5 linked regions of the Homo sapiens genome follow. The protein of the gene in region 3 purifies or fractionates together with the protein of the main gene of each other region. This does not show direct contact. Each region holds a gene or a part of one and is shown on either strand. Other genes may lie near its edges. The genes, in order: NOP14, POC5, LTV1, NAP1L4 and DDX10.

Evidence for each region.
Region 1: the proteins of LTV1 (region 3) and NOP14 purify together in Homo sapiens (affinity purification with mass spectrometry; one large-scale study listed by BioGRID and IntAct). This does not show direct contact.
Region 2: the proteins of LTV1 (region 3) and POC5 purify together in Homo sapiens (co-immunoprecipitation; one large-scale study listed by IntAct). This does not show direct contact.
Region 4: the proteins of LTV1 (region 3) and NAP1L4 fractionate together in Homo sapiens (co-fractionation; one large-scale study listed by BioGRID). This does not show direct contact.
Region 5: the proteins of LTV1 (region 3) and DDX10 purify together in Homo sapiens (affinity purification with mass spectrometry; one large-scale study listed by BioGRID and IntAct). This does not show direct contact.

The regions. Positions count from the first base shown.
Region 1 is NC_000004.12:2,952,518-2,957,242, forward strand, and holds part of NOP14 (nucleolar protein 14), read right to left. Parts: intron 4,295-4,725; coding exon 4,153-4,294; intron 2,047-4,152; coding exon 1,907-2,046; intron 1,129-1,906; coding exon 994-1,128; intron 1-993. UniProt on the Homo sapiens protein: Involved in nucleolar processing of pre-18S ribosomal RNA. Has a role in the nuclear export of 40S pre-ribosomal subunit to the cytoplasm.
Region 2 is NC_000005.10:75,689,127-75,693,851, reverse strand, and holds part of POC5 (centrosomal protein POC5), read left to right. Parts: intron 1-1,351; coding exon 1,352-1,456; intron 1,457-3,289; coding exon 3,290-3,469; intron 3,470-4,686; coding exon 4,687-4,725. UniProt on the Homo sapiens protein: Essential for the assembly of the distal half of centrioles, required for centriole elongation. Acts as a negative regulator of centriole elongation.
Region 3 is NC_000006.12:143,849,308-143,854,032, reverse strand, and holds part of LTV1 (protein LTV1 homolog), read right to left. Parts: intron 3,903-4,725; coding exon 3,815-3,902; intron 1-3,814. UniProt on the Homo sapiens protein: Essential for ribosome biogenesis.
Region 4 is NC_000011.10:2,953,785-2,958,509, forward strand, and holds part of NAP1L4 (nucleosome assembly protein 1-like 4), read right to left. Parts: coding exon 4,615-4,725; intron 1,983-4,614; coding exon 1,960-1,982; intron 863-1,959; coding exon 743-862; intron 1-742. UniProt on the Homo sapiens protein: Acts as a histone chaperone in nucleosome assembly.
Region 5 is NC_000011.10:108,671,259-108,675,983, forward strand, and holds part of DDX10 (probable ATP-dependent RNA helicase DDX10), read left to right. Parts: intron 1-2,208; coding exon 2,209-2,269; intron 2,270-4,337; coding exon 4,338-4,468; intron 4,469-4,725. UniProt on the Homo sapiens protein: Putative ATP-dependent RNA helicase that plays various role in innate immunity or inflammation. Plays a role in the enhancement of AIM2-induced inflammasome activation by interacting with AIM2 and stabilizing its protein level.

The sequences.
Region 1 (4,725 bases), on a different chromosome or scaffold from region 3:
TAAGCCACATCTACGTCTTTTCTTCTAGAGAGAAAACTGTTCTGATAAGCCCTGAGGATTGCGAAATCAGTGGACATTCGGTCACAAAGAATTTGTTTACCCCTAGAAAAATTCTCAGAATACATCTGCTTTAACGAAAACAGGCCAGGTGCAGTGGCTCACGCCTGTAATCCCAGCACTTTGGGAGGCCAAGGTGGGCAGATCACGTGAGGTCAGGAGTTTGAGATCAGCCTGGCCCAACATGGTGAAACCCTGTCTTTACTAAAAATACAAAAATTAGTCAAGCATGGTGGCACGCGCCTGTAATCCCAGCTACCCGGGAGGCTGAGGCAAGAGAATCACTTGAACCCAGGAGGTGGAGGTTGCAGTGAGGTGGAGGTTGCACTACACTCCAGCCTGGGTGACAGAGCGAGACTCCGTCTCAAACAACAACAAAAACGCTACTTATCCAGGCATTACGCCCTAAACGTGGGAAACTAAGTAAAGTAACGGTAACATCAAGGCTGACTGACAAAGATGCACAGATGACCACATGACACTAATCTGCTGGGATCTAGACTTCTCTGAGAACGCAGTTTCTTAAACAAATGCAGCATTTTCCAATAGTTTCGACTAAAGAGAATGCAGTAGGAAACAACTGTTTACAGAGGCAAAAATAAGTAAATGTATATTAAATGTATGTATTATGTATCAACAGACAAACATGTCACAGGGAAGTTCAGACACCTATTCTAACGTGTCCACCCTGAAGTACTTCTTCCATCCAGAAACACCACTTTTTTCAGTTTAATTCACCTGCAATAGAGACTCAAGTAACTGAATCTACTTCCACCCCAAGATTACACACAGCAGGTAATTCAGTATCAATGTTCAACAGAAACTTGCCCTAAAGGAGACAGGTAGAAGAGCCGTCCAGCCCCAGCCCTTTCTCTGGAGAAAGTCGGTCACCCAAGCTCAGTGAGTGAAGAGTTTGTTTCAGTACTTGGCTCCCACCTTGGGTTTTTCCTTTTTGTCTCTGTTCTCTGACTTGGGAGTTTTGTGGGACAGGAGAGTCTGAATTTCTTTCCAGTCTTGGTCTAGCTTCTCCGTGAGCTCGAGGGCATCTTCTCGTTGAGCTTGTCTCTCCCTCTGGGGAAAAAATAACAGACACACACCACATACCGTTACTACTGGACTTCAACCCAGAGGCCCAATGTCAGTGCCAAGGACACACACAGTGATCACTCAGTTGGCACCAAACGTTTCAACACAGAAAAGAGGCCAGGAGAAATGAGTATTTTAAATGCAAAGCTACCAAATCTCATCAGACGGAAATCTTTTCCTGCCATAAACCATTAATTTAGATGCTCTGAGCAGTTCACTGCAAATGAATAAAAAAGTGATTTTTTGGGCACATGTCAGATACTAAAACCAGCAACAACAAAAAACCCATCCGCGCCAGGTGCAGTGGCCCACCCTGTGCTTTAGAACTAGGCCAAGGTGGGAGAACTGCTTGAGCCTGGTCGACACAGCACGATCCCCATCTCTACAAAAAGTAATTAGCTGAGCATGGTGGCGCCCACTAGCTACTTGGGGAGCTGAGGTGGGAGGATCACTGGATCCTTGAGCCCAGGAGTTTGAGGCCACAGTGAGCTTTGATCGTGCCACTGTACTCCAGCCCGGGAAACAGAGACTACGTCTCAAAATAAAACAAAACATAAACCAAAAAAAGGCAAAAGAACCAAAACCTGTCCGAGGTATATGCTTTATGTGATTTTTAAAATTCCTACTCACAATAAATGCTTTTACTGAACTCATATAAAATATTAAACACAGCCTAAAAAGGTACAGGAAAAAAAAGCTCAAACACATTTTGGTGAGCCTGTCTTACCGTGGAGAAGATGATCAAGAACACTCACTAACCCACCTTCTCTTGTTTTGACTTGGCAATGAGCTCTTCAATCAGCTCTTTCCGGGACTTCGGTTTCTCCCGCTCCTCGCCTTCCTGTTGAGTCTTCTTGTGAAGGAGCCCACCGCCTCCTCCAAAGTGGGCAGCAGTCAGCTCAGCTGGGGGCAAAAGGCAGAAAACCCCACAGTGAAGCCCAGCCCTGGCGTGGGAAGTGTTTCCTGTAGCACTCTGCCAGTGCTTCCCCCATAGTGGTCTGGAAAAGTCCACATTTGAGAAAAAAATGCTCACACGCAACAGCCTGGCCTGAGACCACAGGCACAATGGCACTTGAGAAATACCCAAGGTAAGCCACTCTGAGAAAACCCAGACCCATTACACTCCCAACTGGCCGTAACCCAAGTGGCTGGAAACACCCAGCACCTATTTTTGATTGTGCTGGTTCTAGCGAAGACTGGCAAACCCAGAGCAAGCTGACTCCAGGGTCTTGGTGGGAGCGTCGCCCAGGATCAGTGGTGCAATCTGTGTCCCTCCCACCTCCCTGGGCAGGGCCTGGAGACTCTAGTCACCTGTACCACGGCGCCCCCTCTAGTCACCTGCACGCCACGGCGCCCCCTCTAGTCACCTCCACGCCACGGCGCCCCCTCTAGTCACCTGCACGCCACGGCGCTCCCTCTAGTCACCTGCGCCACGGCGCCCCCTCTAGTCACCTGCGCCACAGCGCCCCCTCTAGTCACCTGCACCCCACGGCGCCCCCTCTAGTCACCTGCACGCCACGGCGCCCCCTCTAGTCACCTGGACCACGGCGCCCCCTCTAGTCACCTGCACGCCACAGCGCCCCCTCTAGTCACCTGCACCACGGCGCCCTCTAGTCACCTGCACCACAGCGCCCCCTCTAGTCACCTGCACGCCACGGCGCCCCCTCTAGTCACCTGCACGCCACGGCGCCCCCTCTAGTCACCTGGACCACGGCGCCCCCTCTAGTCACCTGCACGCCACGGCGCCCCCTCTAGTCACCTGCACCACGGCGCCCTCTAGTCACCTGCACCACAGCGCCCCCTCTAGTCACCTGCACGCCACGGCGCCCCCTCTAGTCACCTGCACCACAGCGCCCCCTCTAGTCACCTGCACGCCACGGCGCCCCCTCTAGTCACCTGCACGCCACGGCGCCCCCTCTAGTCACCTGCGCCACAGCGCCTCCTGGCAATGAGGGGAAGGCCACTCGCCCAACTCACACCAAGGCAGTTACCTCCAGTCTCGGGGAATTAGGATCTCCCCAGGGAATGCGTTTTATAGCTAAGGGTCCACGAGAAGTCTTGAACAATGAAAAGAGCAAAGACAAAGGCACAGAGGGGTTAAAATAACTGGCCATTCTCTTCACGCCCGTGAAGCCGAGCAGTGGCGGGGCCTCCTGGTGTGCCGCAGATGGCGGGTTCTGCACCACATGCTTGCTGCCCTAATTCCTAAGCCTTTTACCCCCTGGATTAGCCAAATATCAGAAGGCAGCCCCAGGCTTTAACGCCTTAACTTTCACACACTGACAAGACAAAGCTTTGAGAGTCAGTTTTAGATTTGTACACCTTTGTTCTGAAGATGCTGGAAATGGGACCTACTTTAACTTACAAGAAATGTCAAGTAATTGATGTCATGACTGCAACCTTATAAATAGGGTTCAAGACAGTCAGACCCGAACTGAATCTTAAACTCTGTTAACATTATTTAAGGCCAAAATTTATCTGTTTCATGTTGTTATCTACAGATATGAGGCTCAATATGATTTTCCTCAAACTGCTATAATTCCACAGTAGGTAAAAGCTAAAGGAACTACATCAATGCCACTGGTACAAATATTAGGCTGGAATTGATAAAGTAGGGGGAGCAAAGTAGTGCATTCAGTGAGGCACCTGGAGTCAGTGAGGTGGGTTCTCCCCACAGCTCTGACTCTGGCATCGGGCAAAACACCTTATTTCTCTGAGCTCATGGGTAGAACGAGCTATTTTGAGGTTCAAATAAAATAATGGATATCAACATGCTTTCTTGGCCCATAAAAGCATCTATCTACACACCATCTTAAAGTTCTGAAAACTTAAAAAAAAAACAAAAATACATAAAAACTGTCACTTGTGAAATTTGTAGAGAGGTTAATGATCAGTAAAACTTTCATGCAATAACTTTCTCTAGTCTCTAAGAAGAGCAGAAGGTCTAACAATGAACAGACTCTCCCTGACTCCACGCCCACAGGCCCGTGCACAGCACCCCAGCCTCACCAGACAACGTTCCTCGATCCTCAGCATCGCTGTCACTGTCCACAATGTCATTATGCTTCTCGATGTCTGCCAAAGACTGGCCATAATGAGTCAATTCTTCATCTTCATTTAGATTGTAGATGCTTTTTTTCTCATGATGTCGCTGACAGAAGAGAAAAAAAGTTTCCTAAAATTACCACTTCCATTTCACAGCAAAAAAAAAAAGATAAGGTAGATATATATATTTCCATTATATTTGAAATATGACAACGAATCCTAAGCAGCCTTAAAGAGTATTTTGGGTCAACTAAGCAATGATTCATGATTCAGACAGAAATGAAACTCATGGAGGGTAATTCTTTTTTTTCCTTCAGACAGAGTCTCGCTCTGTTGCCCAGGCTGGAGTGCGGTAGAGTGATCTGGGCTCACTGCAACCTCTGACTCCCTGGTTCAAGTGATTCTCCTGCCTCAGCCTCCTGAGTAGCTGGGATTATAGGCATGCGCCACCACGCCTGGCTAATTTTTGTATTTTTAGTAGAGACGGGGTTTCATCACGTTGGCCAGGATGGTCTCGATCTCCTGACCTCATGATCC
Region 2 (4,725 bases), on a different chromosome or scaffold from region 3:
AAAGCAGATGGGCAACAAATCTGTGCCCGGCTATAAATGGATGTCCGGAGGGGCATCCACTTATGGATAGGAGAGTGGTGTTGTTCAGAAGAGGAGGACTTGGGCAGACACCTCAGCTGCTTGTCTGCAGAAGTAGCACTTAAGTGTTTTCATGAATTAAAGATTATAATTTTTTTAAACATACCTTGATTTCGTATAAAATTGAACATTTTATAGAATTTTTTTTGAAACAATGGATTTTAATGTCAGTCATTTTCTTTGTTATACTCAAAATTCTGTCCCATGGTTTTTAAGTTTAATTTTTTTATTTTGAAGTATCACAAAGAATATAGATATCATATGTTCAGTTTATGAGAATGAGTAAAGTGGATAGACAGGTACTACGATTCAGCTTAACACATAGAATATTTCCAGTAGCTTAGAATGTATGCCCTTTTCCTCTCTGGAAATTATTTAAAGAGCAGTTATAAATATCTCTTGGTAAATGTGCCCAATTTACAAAATCTCTTTCTAATGTGACTATTTTTAGAAATTTATTTCAGTTATTCAGTTCTTTTATAAGAGAGAATATTATCTTAGGATTTTAAAGCCTTCTGAATTTTTTTTTAAGAACAAGAGTAATAATATCACTGAAGAAGTACATCAACATATAACATTAATAACATTAGTTATATATAATGTTATTAATATGTTATATGTATAACATTAATTATATATATTTACTTATATATATAACATTTTATGTATGACATATGTTATATATGTTATTAATAGTTATATGTATAACATGTTATTAATAGGTATATATAACATATATAATATATAGTTATATATATAACTATAACATATTAATAGTTACATATATAACTATTATTTGCTTTTATAGGTTTGTTTAATCCAGAAAATCATTGGACAGTCGTTGAGGAACTTCTATATCCAAGATAGTAGTAGGGACCAGAAAGATATTTAAATATCTAAATATTCTGGCCCCTGCCCTCAAATCTAGTGAATAAAGACATGGTGTATATAGGAGAACTTTCAAATGTATAATTGTTTTACCTGAATTGAATGTCAGTAGCTAATTTGCATATACATAAACTTTTTATTGGTGATTACCATATACACATAATGAAGACTTCCTTCTTCTTTTGTTCCCTTTCATTAGTTGATATCTAGTATATTCATGTGAGAAAGTTTTACCATCTTTTTAAAGATAATAATGAGGTTAACTGAATGAATATAGTAGTGATCCATACCTATCCTCTCTAGCATTTTTTGATATATGAGAAAATCACTTTACCAATTGCTGTTATTTTAATATCACAATAATTGGGTTAATTGCTGTTTACAGGTGATTTCTAGCTTGTCTCATGCCATAGGCAAGCAAAAGGAAAAGATAGAGTTGATGAGAACATTCTTCCACTGGCGAATCGGCCATGTCAGAGCCAGACAGGATGTAAGTGTCAAAGCAGAAGACAGCTGATGGATGTTAGACTTCTGAATTCAGAAGTGCTCAGGATCACTTATTATAGTTGTTTTCTAATAAGTCAAAATGAATTTGTGATTTAATGTTCCTCTTATTTCAAAGGAATTTGATTTTGATGTAGTTTGGAAAAAATACAGTTTAGATCTTATTGACATATAATATATATATATTACAATAGATACATCATTTCCTGCTTCATAGTAGGTTAATAAGGATTGTTCCTAAATTGTAAAGGCCCTGGTAATAGAACCCCCTCAGATGTGGTTATTGGAGAAAGAAGTTATGTTTAACATATCAAATGCTTCCTATATTGTTTCTACTTTTAAAATGCCTGAATACAACTTATTCATAAAGAGGCTTTACTATATTTATACATTAAATCACAGTATAAATGTTTGTTATGTAGACTTGCCTTAGAGTGAGAGTCAGAGAAAGCCATACCTGTACAGCTTTTTAAAAGTTATCCTTAGCTTGTAGTATATCATTTAAACTTGAACATCTTTTATTTTAAGTAAGAGCTGAGTTGGTATATCAGTAAATAGTGAACTGAAAGAGAATACTAAATTGTTGTATCAAAAGTGGAAAAGTATGAGTATATCCCACAACAAGACATAGTTTAGAGACACATGAATATAGGAGATGAATATATATATATATGCTTTCCATGTATATTCATGTGAGCTATGGAATAATCTCTGTGTATTTAGTTTCCAAGAGATTAGTATTTAAGGAAAAAGCTAGTACAGGTTGAGTATCCCTTATCCAAAATGTTTGGCACCAGGAGAATTTTGGATTTTAGATTATGTTTCATATCACACCTTATGCACAAAATTCATTTATGTTTCATATTTCACCTTATACATATAGCCTAAGGTAATTGTATACAATATTTTTAATAATTTTATGCATGAAACAAAGTTTGTGTTAAGTACTTCTGTGTGGAATTTTTCACTTGTGGTGTCATGCTGACACTCAAAAAGTTTCAGATTTTTGGATTAGAGATGCTCAACCTACTTTATCCTGGAATAAGATTTCTCCTTTAAGAATACTTTCTGGATTTTTCATTTTTTTAATTAATCCCAGTAGATTAAATCCACATTAAGTAAGCTGGTTAAAATGAATATTTATACTCTACTTTGAAACTTGTCAAGTGAAATAATGAGAATACATATTTATTTTTAAATGTTAGCCAGAATAGTTGAGGCTACTGTCACTTTTGGATAGTTTTTCAAACTGAAGAAATTGAGAATTGGAACTACTTCTTCAAAAGAATTTAAATTCATTGATAAAAGAAAAATAGCATAAGTTTTTATTTGGATTGGCACCATATATGATGGCAGGGTTTATAAATTAAATCTTGCTTGTGGTGGCCATCAAACTGAAGAGAAAGCAGTGTCATCTGAAGCCACAGCCACCACCATTTCCTGCCTTCTAGCCACTCTGTTATTCTCCTGGTCCTGCTAAATTCATAACTAAGATGGCAAGTGGTGATTTGCTCATTTTCTTTCATTTGGTTGTATTCTTTTTCTCTAACTTGATTAGTTGCATAAAGCAATGATGTAATGGATAAGAGCTCAGTCTCTGGAGTCAGGCAAGTCTGGCTTTACTCATCTACTTATGTGAACTACGTAGCTTGCTTAACCTCTCTAAGCCTGTTCTCCTATATGCAAGATGAGAATAATATGATTACATAGAATTAAATAATGTGTATATGTACACTTACCACCATGTTATGTTTATTATTACTACCAATATATTTATCAATCAACTGTGTTTTTGAAGTTATATTTTACTTTTATTTAGGTTTATGAAGGTAAACTAGCTGACCAGTACTACCAGAGAACTTTACTGAAGAAAGTCTGGAAAGTCTGGCGTTCCGTAGTGCAAAAGCAGTGGAAAGATGTGGTAGAAAGAGCTTGTCAAGCAAGAGCTGAAGAAGTTTGTATCCAGATTTCCAATGATTATGAAGCCAAAGTTGCTATGGTAAGCATCTTTTTCTGGTTTTCACTTTCTTCTAATACAATAAAAAGATAGATAGACTCACTATTAATTAATAGACTTCTTCTTTTGGTCTTTAATCAAGAATGCAGACAAAAAAATGAAAACGTTTATTCTTGTGTTAATTTAATGTTTATTGTATATTCTTACATGGTTGATATAAGGAGTTGTATAGAAATTGAAATTATTAGTTGGGCGCGGTGCCTCACTCCTGTAGACCCAGCACTTTGGGAGGCCGAGGCGGGCAGATCACCTGAGTCAGGAGTTTGAGACCAGCCTGGTCAACATGGTGAAACCCCGTCTCTACTAAAAAAATTAGCTGGGTATGGTGGCACATGCCTATAATACCCGCTACTCGGGAGGCTGAGGCAGGATAATCTTTTGAACCTGGGAGGCAGAAGTTGCAGTGAGCTATATCACACTGTTGCACTCCAACCTAGGCAACAAGAGCAGAAATCCATCTCAAAAAAGAAAAAAAGAAATTGAAATTATTTTTTCCCATTGACTTTTAATAATAAAATTAACATTGTTTTCATGGGAAAACATTTGGAATTGAAATGAAATAAAATCCATTCTAAAGAATGCAATAGGCCTCTTGAAGTTAAATATTAAAATGAAAAAATAACTCATTACAGCATTAAATTGTTAAGATTAAAAATAAATCCATAATACAAATAATTTTCTGCAGTTCACTACGACATGCAAAAAATGCAGTCCCCTGAGGTTTGGCCTATGGGAAAGTGTGTTGTACCTAGGGTCACTCTGCACTTCAAATACTGAAGGTAACATTTACATTATAAAAATTCTGTTAATATTGCAGGCATGTAGTTTATTTTATTTTTTTCTGAAAGGGCTGTCTGTGGCTCTTAATGTATTTTGTTTAACATCCTACATAAAAGTTTTACAGTAAAAAATGGTGTATCTTTTTGTGAAATGAAAATACATCAGCAATATTCAATGGGACTGGATAAAATTCCCCTTGTTTGAACCTTGATTTTAAGGTTAGGAATGAAAGCATTTTGTTGATGGAGATAATAGAGGTAAGAGGTACCTTTTAAAATAAATTGCACATAGCAGAAGAGGTAAGTGACAAACTTTTTAATATTTCACATGAGAATAATCTCAAAGTATATATCTATTTTTTTGACAGTATTCTTCTTTGTATCTCAAATTGTTTTGCTTTTTAAACATTCTTATTTTAGTTATCTGGAGCTTTGGAAAATGCAAAAGCTGAGATTCAA
Region 3 (4,725 bases):
CTGATACCACTCCTTCTGAAACTATTCCAAACAATAGAAAAAGAGGGACTCCTCTCTAACTCATTTTATGAGGCCAGCATCATCCTGATACCAAAACCTGGCAGAGACACAACAAAAAAAGAAAATTTCAGGCCAATATCCCTGATGAACATCAATGCGAAAATCGTCAATAAAAAACTGGCAAAACAAATCCAGCAGCACATCAAAAAGCTTATTCACCACAATCAAGTTGGCTTCATCCCTGGGATGCAAGGCTGGTTCAACGTAATCCATTACATAAACAGAACCAATGACAAAAACCACATGATTATCTCAATAGATGCAGAAAAGGCCTTTGATAAAATTCAACACCCCTTCATGCTAAAAACTCTCAATAAACTAGGTATTGATGGAACATATCTCAAAATAATAAGAGCTATTTATGACAAACCCTCAGCCAATATCATACTGAATGGGCAAAAGCTGGAAGCATTCCCTTTGAAAACCGGCACAAGACAAGGATGCCCTCTCTCACCAATCCTATTCAACACAGTATTGGAAGTTCTGGCCAGGGCAATCAGGCAAGAGAAAGAAATAAAGCGTATTCCAATAGGAAGAGAGGAAGTCAAATTGTCTCTGTTTGCAGATTAACATCACTGTCTATTTAGAAAACCCCATCATCTCAGCCCAAAATCTCCTTAAGCTGATAAGCAACTTCAGCAAAGTCTCAGGATACAAAATCAATGTGCAAAAATCACAAGCATTCCTATATACCAATAATAGACAAACAGAGAGCCAAATTGTGAGGGAACTCCCATTCACAATTGCTACAAAGAGAATAAAATACCTAGGAATCCAACTTACAAGGGATGTGAAGGACCTCTTCAAGGAGAACTACAAACCACTGCTCAAAGAAATCAGAGGGGACACAAACAAATGGAAAAACATTCCATGCTCATGGATAGGAAGAATCAATATCATAAAAATGGCCATACTGCCCAAAGTAATTTACAAGATAATCCTAAGCAGAAAGAACAAAGCTGGAGGCATCACACTACCTGACTTCAAACTATACTACATGGCTACAGTAATCAAAACAGCATGGTACTGGTACCAAAACAGATATATAGACCAATGGAACAAAACAGAGGCCTCAGAAATAACACCACACATCTACAGCCATCTGATCTTTGACAATCCTAACAAAAACAAGCAATGGGGAAAGGATTCCGTATTTAATAAATGGCATTGGGAAAACTGGCTAGCCATATGCAGAAAACTGAAATTGGACCCCTTCTTTACACCTTATACAAAAATTAACTCAAGATGGATTAAAGACTTCAACGTAAGACCTAAAACCATAAAAACTCTAGAAGAAAACCTAAGCAATACCATTCAGGATATAGGCATGGGCAAAGACTTCTTGACTAAAACATCAAAAGCAATGTCAACAAAAGCCAAAATTGACAAATGGGATCTAATTAAATTAAAGAGCTTCTGCAGAGCAAAAGAAACTATCATCAGAGTCAACAGGCAACCCACACAATGGGAGAAAATTTTTGCAATCAATCCATCTGACAAAGGGCTAATATCCAGAATCTACAAAGAACTTAAATTTACAAGAAAAAAACAAACAACCCCATTGAAAAGTGGGCAAAAGATAGGAACAGATATTTCTCAAATGAAGACATTTATGCAGCCAACAAACATGAAAAAAAGCTCATCATCACTGGTCATTATAGAAATGCAAATTAAAACCACAATGAGAAACTATCTCACGCCAGTTAGAATGGCAATCATTAAAAAGTCAGGAAACAACAGATTCTGGAGAGGATGTGGAGAAATAGGAACGCTTTTATGTTGTTGTTGGGAGTGTAAATTAGTTCAACCATTGTGGAAGACAGTGTGGCGATTCCTCAAGGATCTAGAACCAGAAATACCATTTGACCCAGCAATCCCATTACTGGGTACATACCCAAAGGATAATAAATCATTCTACTATAAAGACACATGCACACGTAGGTTTATTGTAGCACTGTTCACAATAGCAAAGACTTGGAACCAACTTAAATGCCCATCAATGACAGACTGGATAAAGAAAATGTGGCACATATACACCATGGAATACTATGCAGCCATAAAAAAGGACACGTTCATGTCCTCTGCAGGGACATGGATGAAGCTGGAAACCATCACTCTCAGCAAACTAACACAGGAACAGAAAACCAAACACCGCATGTTCTCACTCATAAGTGGGAGTTGAACAATGAGAACATATGGACACAGGGAGGGGAACATCACACACTGGGGCCTGTTGGGGGATGGGGGCCTAGGGGAGGGATAGCATTAGGAGAAATGCCTAATGTAGATGATGGGTTGATGGGTGCAGCAAACCACCATGACGTGTATACCTACATAACAAACCTGCACATTCTGCATATATATCCCAGGACTTAAAGTATAATTTAAAAAAAAAAATGAAAAAAGAAATGATGCTTCTCCTTTTAATATCCACTGGTGAAAATAATGTTCCATTAAACATCTATAATGTTTAACTTTGTCTAGCATAATTCAAAGCTTTTGTCTGCAAGAAGAAACTGGCCTTTAAATTCACCTGTTAAAAATAACTCGAACAATTTTTAGACTGTTATACTTTCAGTATTTTCTGACTTTGCGATTTTAATAAATACCTACCTGTTTCTTCAGATATGTTCTTCCATCTATAAATATACTAGGCTGACTCTGGGCACACTGCTTAGGACTTAGCCCTGCTCCACAAGGAGCAGAAAATGAAAACAAAAAACTCAAGTTCATGAAAAACTTTCAACTCCAAATTTATCATCTGACATGGCCTCCAACACCCTCTGCTACATGGCCATTACTTAACCCTCCAGCCTCATTTCTTTTTAATCCATACCCTTCCTTCTGGGCAGGCTAAAATGTGTATAGTTACCTATATTCACGTTCTCTTGCCTTAGGACATACAGTCCTCTGTCTGGAACATCCTCTGGTCCCCACCCCTCCCCCTCCTTCTTCCACCTACCTAACTTTTACTTAAGAAACAAACTAGATATCACCTTCTTTAGAAAGCCTTGCCCAACCCTGTGATGCTGGGTTTGGTGCTACTCACCCCACTATTAATATCCATCTATACTGTAATTTATCATTTATTGTTTATTTTTCCCAAATGAGGTAAATTCTTGGGTCAGAGACTATGCTTTATTCTGTTTTAACCCAAGGCCCTGCCACACAGACAGTGGCAACTCAAAAATCTGTACAATAAATTAATTAATGAATGCCACAGGACAGGTGTTAGTTAATAATTAAGGCAACTTGGGAGAAAATACCAACACCACTTCTGTAGACTTTTGTGTTTGTTCTGAAATACAGTGTTGGTACTACAAATTAAAAATAAAAAATTTCCCCCAATATATGTGTAGATGGCAAAATGAACTTCCATAAAAATACCTGTATGCTCTGGGGAGAAATTCTGAAAAACAGATTATTTTTCAAAATTACACTACAAGTAATGAATAATTAATACCACTATCTTTGCAAGAGGTTATGTGAAGGTTACAATTCCCCTAACTAGATTACCAAGAATAGTTTCCCCACTTTCCTCTCCAAACAGGAACTCAAAAGATATAAAGATTTGATGGTAGGAATACAAAAATACAAAGATCACATTCATCCCTTCCTAATAATCCCTGATCTGAATTCCAGACATATCTCAATTGTTTCAATACTTTACTGGGGATAGAAAAATCCTACATCATTTCTTTATGTTTTGCAAAATACATTTATCCATATGAAAAGATAAAGCAATTAAAAATACCTGAAACTGGAGCTGCTTTATTTAACAATCCAACATCTTCCTCAAACTCTGAAGCAAACACTGATGAAGGCAACTTAATTCCAGTGCTCTTGAAAAAGAAATTGCACAATGGTTAGGTTTATTTGGAAATTCTTCTTAACTAGTGTACCGGGTTGAAGTCCCCCCCAAATCAATGTCCATCCAGAACCTTAGACTGACCATATTTGAAATAGGGTCCTCTCAACTATAATAAGATGAGGTCTTACTGGACCATGGTCCTATAACGAGACCACATGAAGACAGAGACTCACAGGGGAGAATGCCATGTGCAGATGACAGCAGACTGGAGTGAGGCCTCTATAAGGCAAGGAATTCCAAGGAATGATCACCGGTAACCTTCGGAAGTTAGGAATGAGCCATTCAACAGCCTCTCCCTCTAAGCCCCCAAGAAAAAAACCAAACCTGCTGATACCTTCATCTCAAACTTCTGACCTCCAGAACCATGAAGGAAGAAATTTCTGTTGTTTTAAGTCACCTAGTTTGTGGTAATTTGTTACTGCAGTCCTAGGAAACTATTACAACTACATTCTGTGTTCTCTCACCTGTGCTCCAGGTTGTATATATGTTAAACATGTATATTCCATCATAAACCCAAAAGTAACTCTCTATAATACATCACAATGCCTTCTCTAGCAAATTATTCCATTTATCCCTCAGATCCCATGAGGTATCACCATGTTTTACCAAAAGAACAAAAACTAGGAAAGTTTAAATGGCCCACCTGCCTGAGAATGATCAGTAAGTGAGATTCTGGGATTCAAATCCCAGAGTTTCTTAACTCCACTTGCCTGAAATTTCAAACCAAAATTAAACATTTTCCTCTTAAACTAGAGATAATGTCCTAATCTCTAGTAATGGCACAGCCCTTGTAT
Region 4 (4,725 bases), on a different chromosome or scaffold from region 3:
CGCCCTGTCTGAAGCCCCAACAGACCAGACCTTCTAAGAAAAGAAACCTAAGAGCTCCACAAGAAAGAGAGTATCATCTAGAACATACTTCCAGTAACAGTCTATAAAACAAAACTTTATTTTCCACAGATCAAGAAGACTTGAAGCTGCTTGAGCCTTGGTGAGGATGGGAGTTTCTAAGCGGTACTTGGGCTGTGCACCCGCAAGTTCTGACTGTGGAAGAGCTGGCTTCCCTCAAGCCCAGAAAGGAAAGTGACATGCAATCTTGTTGTTTTCTTCGGGAGCACGGGTTTCTTTTTTTTCCTTTTTACCTAATTAGATAGAAGTTCAGGAATTTCTATTTCTTTTGGGTTGATGAACCACAGGCTAGCATAAGTCCACTGTCAATAAATGTTTGTTGTGGCCAGACCTCCATAAAAGAGATATTCCCTGTGTTCACAAGTTCCCTGAAGCTTAGGTTTTGAGAGAATATTGTTGAGTCACTAGGCAGGGCTCACATAGGAAACTGGCAATCACCTCTGAAACTGCTTCACAGACACCTGCTTTTCCTGCTCTGTTCCTCAGACTTCTCCTCTTCAAGCGTATTCCCCCCACAACAAGGACAGCAGCTTGGACTACATATCTGGCTGATGATGTAATAAAAAGATTAGGCATGGGGGTTTCCTAAGCCACAATTCAGGGCCACTCTGCACCAACAGAGATAAGCACCCAGGTGGAAGCCCCCCTTCCCCGAGCCTCATACATTGTCATCATCTTCTATGGCCTCCCCAGTGAAGTACAGCACAGCCCGCGGGACTATCCGCTCACGGAAAAAGTGTCCAATTTCAAAATCAGAGGCTAATGTGAATTCAGAATCTTCATCCTGAGGAGGAAAAACCTACGTGTTAACTCATTTTAATGGGATAAAAACATTCACTTCACCACCCTCAGCCAAACCTCAGCCCCTCACTTTTGATTTACTTAACTTAAAACACCAAACTCCTGCACTGCTGGGGGACAGCCACTAGACACTCAAAGCCCCTTTAAAACAACTTTAAGTAGCTTTAAAGAGCTACTGAAGCAAAATGGCAGAGAAAGTGGGAAGTGAGGGCCCTACAGCTCCACAACTTGTCCAAAGGTCTCACCCAGAGTAGGCGGTATCAGTCTCACATATGGGAAACAGGCAGTATTAAAGCACTGCACATTTGCTACTGAAATCAACATATGAAACACATACTTTTACTTAGATGTGTAATGATTTCAAATTAATCCCAGAGTTTTAGGAAACAGAAATGGATTTTTTTTTTTTAAGAGACAGGGTCTTATTCTATCACCCAGGTTGGAGGGCAGTGGTGCAATCACAGCTCACTCCAGCCTCAAGCTCCTGGGCCCCAGCGACCCTGGAACTACACAGTGCACCACCATGTCCAGCTAATTTATTATTTTATCTTTTGAGACGGAGTCTTGCTCTGTCGCCCAATGGAATACGGTGGTGCAATCTCAGCTCACTGCAACCTCCTCCTCTCGGGTTCAAGTGATTCTCCTGCTTGAGCCTCCTGAGTAGCTGAGATTACAGGCGCTGCCACCGTGTCCAACTAATTTTTTTTTTTTTTGGTATTTTAAGCAGAAACGGGGTTTCACCATGTTGACCAGACTGGTCTTGAACTCCTGACCTCTGGTGATCCACCCACCTTGGCCTCCCACAGTGCTGGTATTACGGGCGTGAACCACCATGTTCGGCTGGCTAATTTATTTGGTTTTAATTTTTTGTGGAGATGGGGTTGTGCTATGTTGCCCAGGCTGGTCTCAAACTCCTGGACTCGTGCAGTCCTCCCACCTCAGCCTCCCAAAGCATTAAGATCACTGGCATACCCAGTCCACACACAGCCAGGACTGGACTTTTTTTAACAAGTAGACAAGTAGACATTCACTCAGGAGAGACTTCAACAGGAAAATAAGACTATTAACAACAAATCTTACCAGTGATTCTCCATCCCCGGATGCTAGAAAAAGAAAAGACAAAACATATTTAAATTACAGTGACAACTCCCAGAATTTTAAAGCCCACACAGGAGGAAGCTGTGCTGGTAGATAAAATGTAACATTTCTCACCTCGAGGTTTAACAGAAATCCCCAAAGCCTTGCATCTCCTCACAGACATCTTTGCAAGCTCCATCCACCACTTCTGAAGCTGGCCTGAGTGCCTCTATGCCCCCCTCCCTTCTCCTCCTCCATCATGTGCCATGGGCTGGCACTCAAGCTTGAGAAGATCATTTTGAGAGAGTTAATATATTAACAGGAGGAATGGCAAACAGCCCCCAGGCTGTGGCCATTCAGTGCATTTGTGCTTTATGGGGAAACTTAACTCATGTCCCGCAGAACTATACATGATGGTGCAGGAAAGAGAAAGTCCTTAAGCCTTATAAGCTGTGAGTGTTACTAAGGCACTGCAAATCAGCGAGACAGAAACTGCATTTCTGTTTGTTTGGAGAGTGCTGGAATGCCCACCAGGGGCCCCTGTAGAGTGGCGCAATTCCTCAGCGAAAGCTGATGCTCAGACGAGCTAAGCCCACCAAGACAGATAGGGACTTCTAACCACACTCAATGAAGCTGTGCAACGTTCAACTGGTAGAAGATCCAACCCCCTGATTTTAGAAACATTTACTACAAGACCCTGAGCTTCATCAGGAGTTGAATGTTTACTCTGCTTAGTCTCATACCTGCCTTTTCAATCTTCACTGGGCTCTCCTCTCTGAGTCTCCCTTCCCATTAAGCGACCACAACCCTGGCAGCACTTGCTGTTTGCTGCTGAGACATGAATGTTGGGTGCGTAAACACCACCCATGAGTGAGGCAGAGTTCCCAAGCCTCGGTGTGCCAGCATCACCCAGGGGTTTTAGACATGGGTTAGGAGCATGGCTGGGTGTCTAAATGCTGGAGCAGCATGCTCCCCAGGGCACTCTGGCCCAAGTCATGAATAGTACAAGGACTCTGAACACTCATACTTCTGGACTGGCTTTGCAGTTTTAAGGACAAAGGAGCTGGACTCACTAGCTAATGCCTCCTTCACTTCACACCACAGGAGTCCATTTTGTCTGTTCCTTCACTACCCCATTACCTATTCCGCAGCCATCCTCAATTTTTTTCAAAGCACTTACCATTTGGTATTATGTGTTTGATTACTTTAAAAGTGGCTTTACTGATGGGATTTACATACCATTAAAAGGCATACACTCTAAATGTACAACTTTATGACTTTCAGTACGTTAATTTTAGAGTTGTGCAACCATCATACCCTAAAAGTTTTAGAATCTAAAAAAAAAAACACTTAAAAATTCCCTTGAGTCCATTATCAACTCCATTTTTATCCTAAAAATTATTTTTAAATCAGTTTTAAGAGAACTTCCTACACAAAGTGATTCCAGAAATTAAAGCCTCCCTTCTTCACGCTGAATTCACAGACAATCTCCAGTATGCCCAACCCAAGTGTCTAAAAGGAATCTTCCAAAAAAAGGAAATGTAATATCTAAATTTATGACTGCTCTCATTCCCCAAACCGTATGTATTTGCATCTTCTAGGTTCAAAGTCTAATTGCAGAAAATAGGCACCACAATTAAAATAATGGACTGAACTCTGAAGGGCAGCTTGATAAATAAGGGTGCTAAGCTCAGAGACAAAATCAAAAAATCAATCACTCAGACTGGAGAAGAGATCCGCCCTGTGGCCCCACATACAAACAAACACTCACTGATTATCTGCAGCAGGGGCTGGCATCTCTTCACTTCAAATTATGTTTTAGTTCATGGAAACTAAAGAGAATATGGATATTTTAACACTGACAAGTTGCTTGACCTTCACATTTTCTCGCGATTAGGAAATTATATGAAAAATCCCAAGAAATTTACTCTTAAAATCAATTGGTCAACCTTTACTAGCTCAAAGGTCTCATCTTTATTTTACCACTTAGGAAAATTTAAAAAATAAATAAATAAACAAAAAGAAGCAGCTTCCAAGCTGTGATTCTGCCGATGTTTTTCAAAAATGAAAGTCCCAACTACTTGTGTTTCTTACAATATATAAATTCCAAAAAATTCTATCAAATTATGCATAAAAAATTACAAGAAAAGGGGGACTAAGCAGATGATCCAAAAGCAGCACAACTAGAACCAGCGTACAGCAGTAACGGGTACCTGCAGAGCAAACCCAGCAGCTCTCCGAGGCTGGGAGTGGTCCCCGGGGGGTGCGAACCAGACACAACAGCGGGGCAGAAATGCCAGCTGGTGGAGAAGGGTGCTCCAGGTGTCCAAGTGAGGAAGCAGCCCAGGTGCAAATACTCGATTCAGTTTTCTTAAAACAGAACTGCAAGTTTTTGCCTGGGCTACAGCCAAGCAGAGTAAAGCTCTTCCCTTTCCTGCAGAAGATGACAATCCTACTCTTACTGTCCTAGCTACCTCTGCCCCCCGCGATAAACTTGCCAGCGCACCAACAGAACAGCCTGGGACACAGCAATGTGCCCCTACTGACCACACTTGCCTGAAAAAAGAGGACTAAAGTCTCTGGGTGTTAGGAATCTATCAGGTGACCAAAATTATTTTATATAAGAACATAATGAATATTAACAACCAACAGACTTGCCTTTCAATGGATTGAAGAAGTTGAAAAAGGACTCATTGGGTACTTGTTTCGTAATTGTTCTAACAGTGCCTCGACCCTTATGCTTCTGCTTTTTCTTGATGGTTTTGACAG
Region 5 (4,725 bases), on a different chromosome or scaffold from region 3:
GTTCAAACGATTCTCCTGCCTCAGCCTCCCAAGTAGCTGGGATTACAGGCGCACGCCACTGCATCTGGCTAATTTTTATAATTTTAGTAGAGACAGGGTTTCGCCATGTTGGCCAGGCTGGTCTTGAACTCCTGACCCCAGGTGATCCGCCTGCCTTGGCCTCCCAAAGTGTTGGGATTACAGGCGTGAGCCATCGTGCCTGGCTGGGTTATTTTCTTTGTAGGAACCGTAGCCATCTCCTGCTGTGGCTGCTATGTAATCCTTGGAATATAACAGAATATCTAGAGCAGGGTCAGCAAACTCTTTTTCTGTAAAGGGCTGGATAGTCTGTGTTAGGCTTTATGGTCCATACAGTCTCCGCAACAACTACATAGACAATAAATAAATGAATTATTGTAGTTGTGCTCGAATAAAACTTTACTTACTAAAATAGGCAGCAAATTGGATTTGGCCCGTAGGCTGTAGTTTGCTGGGCCCTATTTTAGAACATCAACAGAATCAAAAGTTCCTTTTCTTCGTCTTCTTTTAAAGAATATGGCGCCTGTAATCCCAGCACTTTGGGAAGCCGAGGCGGGTGGATCACGAGGTCAGGAGATCAAGACCATCCTGGCTAACACGATGAAACCCCGTCTCTACTAAAAATACAGAAAAAATTAGCTGGGCGTGGTGGTGGGCGCCTGTAGCCCCAGCTACTTGGGAGGCTGAGGCAGGAGAATGGCGTGAACCCGGGAGGTGGAGCTTGCAGTGAGCCAAGTTCGCGCCACTGCACTCCAGCCTGGGCGACACAGCGAGACTCCATCTCGGAAAAAAAAAAAAAAAAAAAAAAAAGGAATATGGTATATAGTTTTCTGTTGTAATGCTTGATTGAAGAGTGTTGGAGCAGTTTCATTCTTCTAAACTTTCCCTCCAGGAGGTTAACTGACTTTAGGAAGATAGATGTGCTGTGCAATGTTTTGTTTGAGGAGCTCGCTTTGCCTGTACTGTGTCTCTTGCTGGGGATTGAAGAGTGTGTTGGCAGCCTGCCTCCTTCTGTAGGCATTCCATTCCCTTTGAAAACAGCTTTTTAGCTGATAATACCACGAGTGCTAGAGTGAGCTACACCTAATTTTAATGCCTTGTTTGGAAGATTATCTTCTAATTGAGGTTCCTTGCTGGGACAGTATGTTATTTGAATAAACCGTTCTTCTAATGCTGGTACACTGATTCTGCCTCCTTTCCAGTGATATCTGAAATGATTTGTAGGGATTAAGACAATGTTTTAATATTTGTATTTTCAGCATTGGAGGGCACAGAGTAAACACTGCCTGGGCAATGTTAAGAATCATAGGAAAGATGTGTAGATTGTAAAATGAAGTACAACTGTCATCCTTTTACTGCCTAGAGTGTAATTTAAATAAATGAACCATACAAATGCAGCTTTTTCCTTTTGCGAATCATGTATAATTTGGCAGCATATTTCCAGAACTGAGCAGTAGTTCCTGCCTTCAGCATCTGTAATAAAATAATTCTCCTGAGCAGCTGAAATGAAATTCAGAAAATTGGGTTTGTGCTAATAAAGAACATCAGTAATGAATATTTGAATAATGTAAAGTTAGCAAAATGTTACTTATTGTGGCTTCAAAGCATGACAGACATTTCCCCTGTGTTGAAATAATACTCCTCCTTCAGTAACCCCAAAATGAATAGTTATCAGGTTGGATTTCATAGGCCACTGATTTATGGTTAAAACTTTGAAAGGATTGTGCTAACAAGAAATATTTCTCCAACTAATTTCACTCTTTTTTCCAAATTGTGTGTATAGAACTATTTTCATTGTGATCTGTGGTTTGTGGTAATTTTGTCCTTGTTTCTTAAATTGAGATCCCTTGAAGGATGATAGGAAGTAAATTTTCTTCCTAAAATTGATGTGGTTGGTGATGCTTTACTGTGTTCAACATTTTGGAGGTCAGATAGTAGTATGTGTGGTGTGTGTGTATTGGGTGACTTTTTTTTCCTTACCAATTGAAATGCTTACAAATGTATATTCGATTCAGGGACAGCCTCTTCAGGGCATATTTCGTTACAGAAGGAATGATGGCTTTTAATTAGAAGCGATGATTGAATTCAACCCTGAATTACCAAGGATGAGCTGGGCAATACAATGTAGAGAAGAAATGGCTGTGTCGTGAAACAAATGAGTTACCCTGATTCCTTTTTCTTTTTTTCCAGATAAATGTAAATGAAATCACAAGATTTTCAGATTTTCCCTTGTCCAAAAAAACATTGAAAGGTAAGTATATGGTGATCTTGGGATGTGTTATTGGATTTCTTGGCATTTTTGATAAATGGGAGAAGATTTAGAGGGTTTAGCCTGAAAAATCTTATTTTGGCAAATTTTGATATCATGAAAACCAATGAAAATAAGCAATATTCAAGTTTTAACAGTACGTTATTCTCATTCTTTCTGGACTAATTAAAAGAAAAACAAGTTTCCAGCATCCTCTGAATAAAATGAAATCTAATTTTGTTAGTTAAAATAAGCAAGGGAACAAACCAAGATGCAACACCCTTTGTATCTGTTTGCTAGGGCTGAGATGACAAAATATCAGACTGAGTGGCTTAAACAACAGAGACTGATTTTCTCACAGTTCTGGAAGTTGGAAGTCTGGGATCAAGATGTTGGTGGCATTGGTTTCCTCTTAAGGCAAAATAAGGGAAGGATTTGTTCCAGGCCTCCTTGGCTTGTGGATGGCTGCCCTCTTGCTGCCTTTTTATTTTTGGATACATAAAAATTGTATATATTTGGCCAGGTGTGGTGGCTCATGCCTGTAATCCCAGTACTTTGGGAGGCCGAGGTGGGTGGATCACAGGGTCAGGAGTTTGAGACCAGCCTGGCCAACATGGTGAAACCCCGTCTCTACTAAAAATACAAAAATTAGCTGGGTGTGGTGGCGGGCACCTGTAATCCCAGCTACAGGCTGAGGCAGGGGAATCACTTGAACCTGGGAGGCGGGTTCATGCCACTCTACTCCAGCCTGGGCAACAGAGTGAGACACCGTCTCAAAAAAAAAAATTGTATATATTTACAGTGTATACATGATGCTTTGAAATATGTATATGCTGTGGAATGGCTAAATCAAACTAATTGTATATGTGCTAATATTACCTCATCCTTTTGTGTTTAGAACTCTTAAAATCTACTTAGTATTTTTTCTTTTTTCAGTATATTTTAATTAACTATAGCAGTATATATTAAGAGAGATATATAATAGATCTCTCTTTTTTTTTTTTAAGATAGGGTCTTGCTCCGTCACCCAGGGTGCAGTGCAGTTGTGTGATCTTAGCTCACTGCATCCTCAGCCTTCTGGGCTCAAGTGATCCTCCCATCTCAGCCTCCTGAGTAGTTGGAACTGCAGGTGCATGCCACTGTGCCTGGCTAATTTTTAAAAATTTTTGGTAGAGATAGAGTTTTGCCATGTTGCCCAGGCTAGTCTTGAGCTCCTGAACTTTAAGGAATCTGCCTGCCTTGGCCTCCCAAAGTGCTGGGATTATAGGCGTGAGCCACCACGCCTGGCCTACAATAGATCTCTTGAAGTTCTTCCTTCTAACTGAAATTTTGTATGTTTGATGAACATCTTCCCACTCTCCTTACTTCCCCCAGCTTCTGGTAACTACCATTCTACCCTCTGCTCCTTTGAATTTGGCTTTTTTAGATTCTACATATAAGTGAGATTATGTGGCATCTTTATTGCTGTGCCTGGTTTATTTCAGTTAACATAAGGTCCTCCAGGTTCATCCATGTTGTTGTAAATAACAGGATTTCCTTTTTAAAGGCTGAGTCATATTCCATTTGTGTGTGTGTGTGTGTGTGTGTGTGTGTGTGTGTGTATGTGTATGTATATAACATATATTTTCTTTACTCATTCATGGACACTTAGGTTGATTTCATATCTTGGCTTCTGTGAATAATGCTGCAATGAACATGTGAGCACAAATACTTTTCAAAGTAGTGGTTTTATTAATAAACCCTTTGGATTATACCCAGGAGTGGAGTAGGTGGATCACAGAATAACTTGTCTCTCTTCACATGGTTTTCCCTCTGTGCATGTGGACCCTTGGTGTCTCTTTGTTCAAGTTTCTTCTCATAAAGACACCGTTTGTGTTGGATCAGAGTCCACCCCTATGGGGCTCTAACTTAATCAACCTCTTTAAAGGCCCTGTCTCCAAGTATAGTTATGTTCTGAGGTACGAGGCATTAGGGCTTCAACATAGGAATTTTGGGGGACACAACTCACTTAGCCTATAATACCATCCTACAGGGATCTTCTAAAGTATAATTCTTCCCTCCATGTTGCCAGGTTTGCAAGAAGCTCAGTACCGTTTGGTGACTGAGATACAGAAGCAGACCATTGGATTGGCTTTGCAAGGTAAAGATGTACTTGGAGCGGCCAAAACTGGATCTGGCAAGACTCTGGCTTTTCTTGTTCCAGTAAGTACATTGTCATTGGGTCAGACTGTCTGTTATACAATTTTATAACATTCTGTGCCCAGATGCAGATTATATAAAGAGATGTTTTCATGTTAGATTTCATGATAGATTGGCTAGAATGCGAGCTTCATCAAACAGGAGCCACATGTGTGTCTTGTTCTCACCATTTTCCCCAGGTTCTAGCACAGTGCCTTGCATGTGGCAGGCACTCAATAACTTACTGAATGAATGAACTATTGTGCCTTGACAAGTCATTA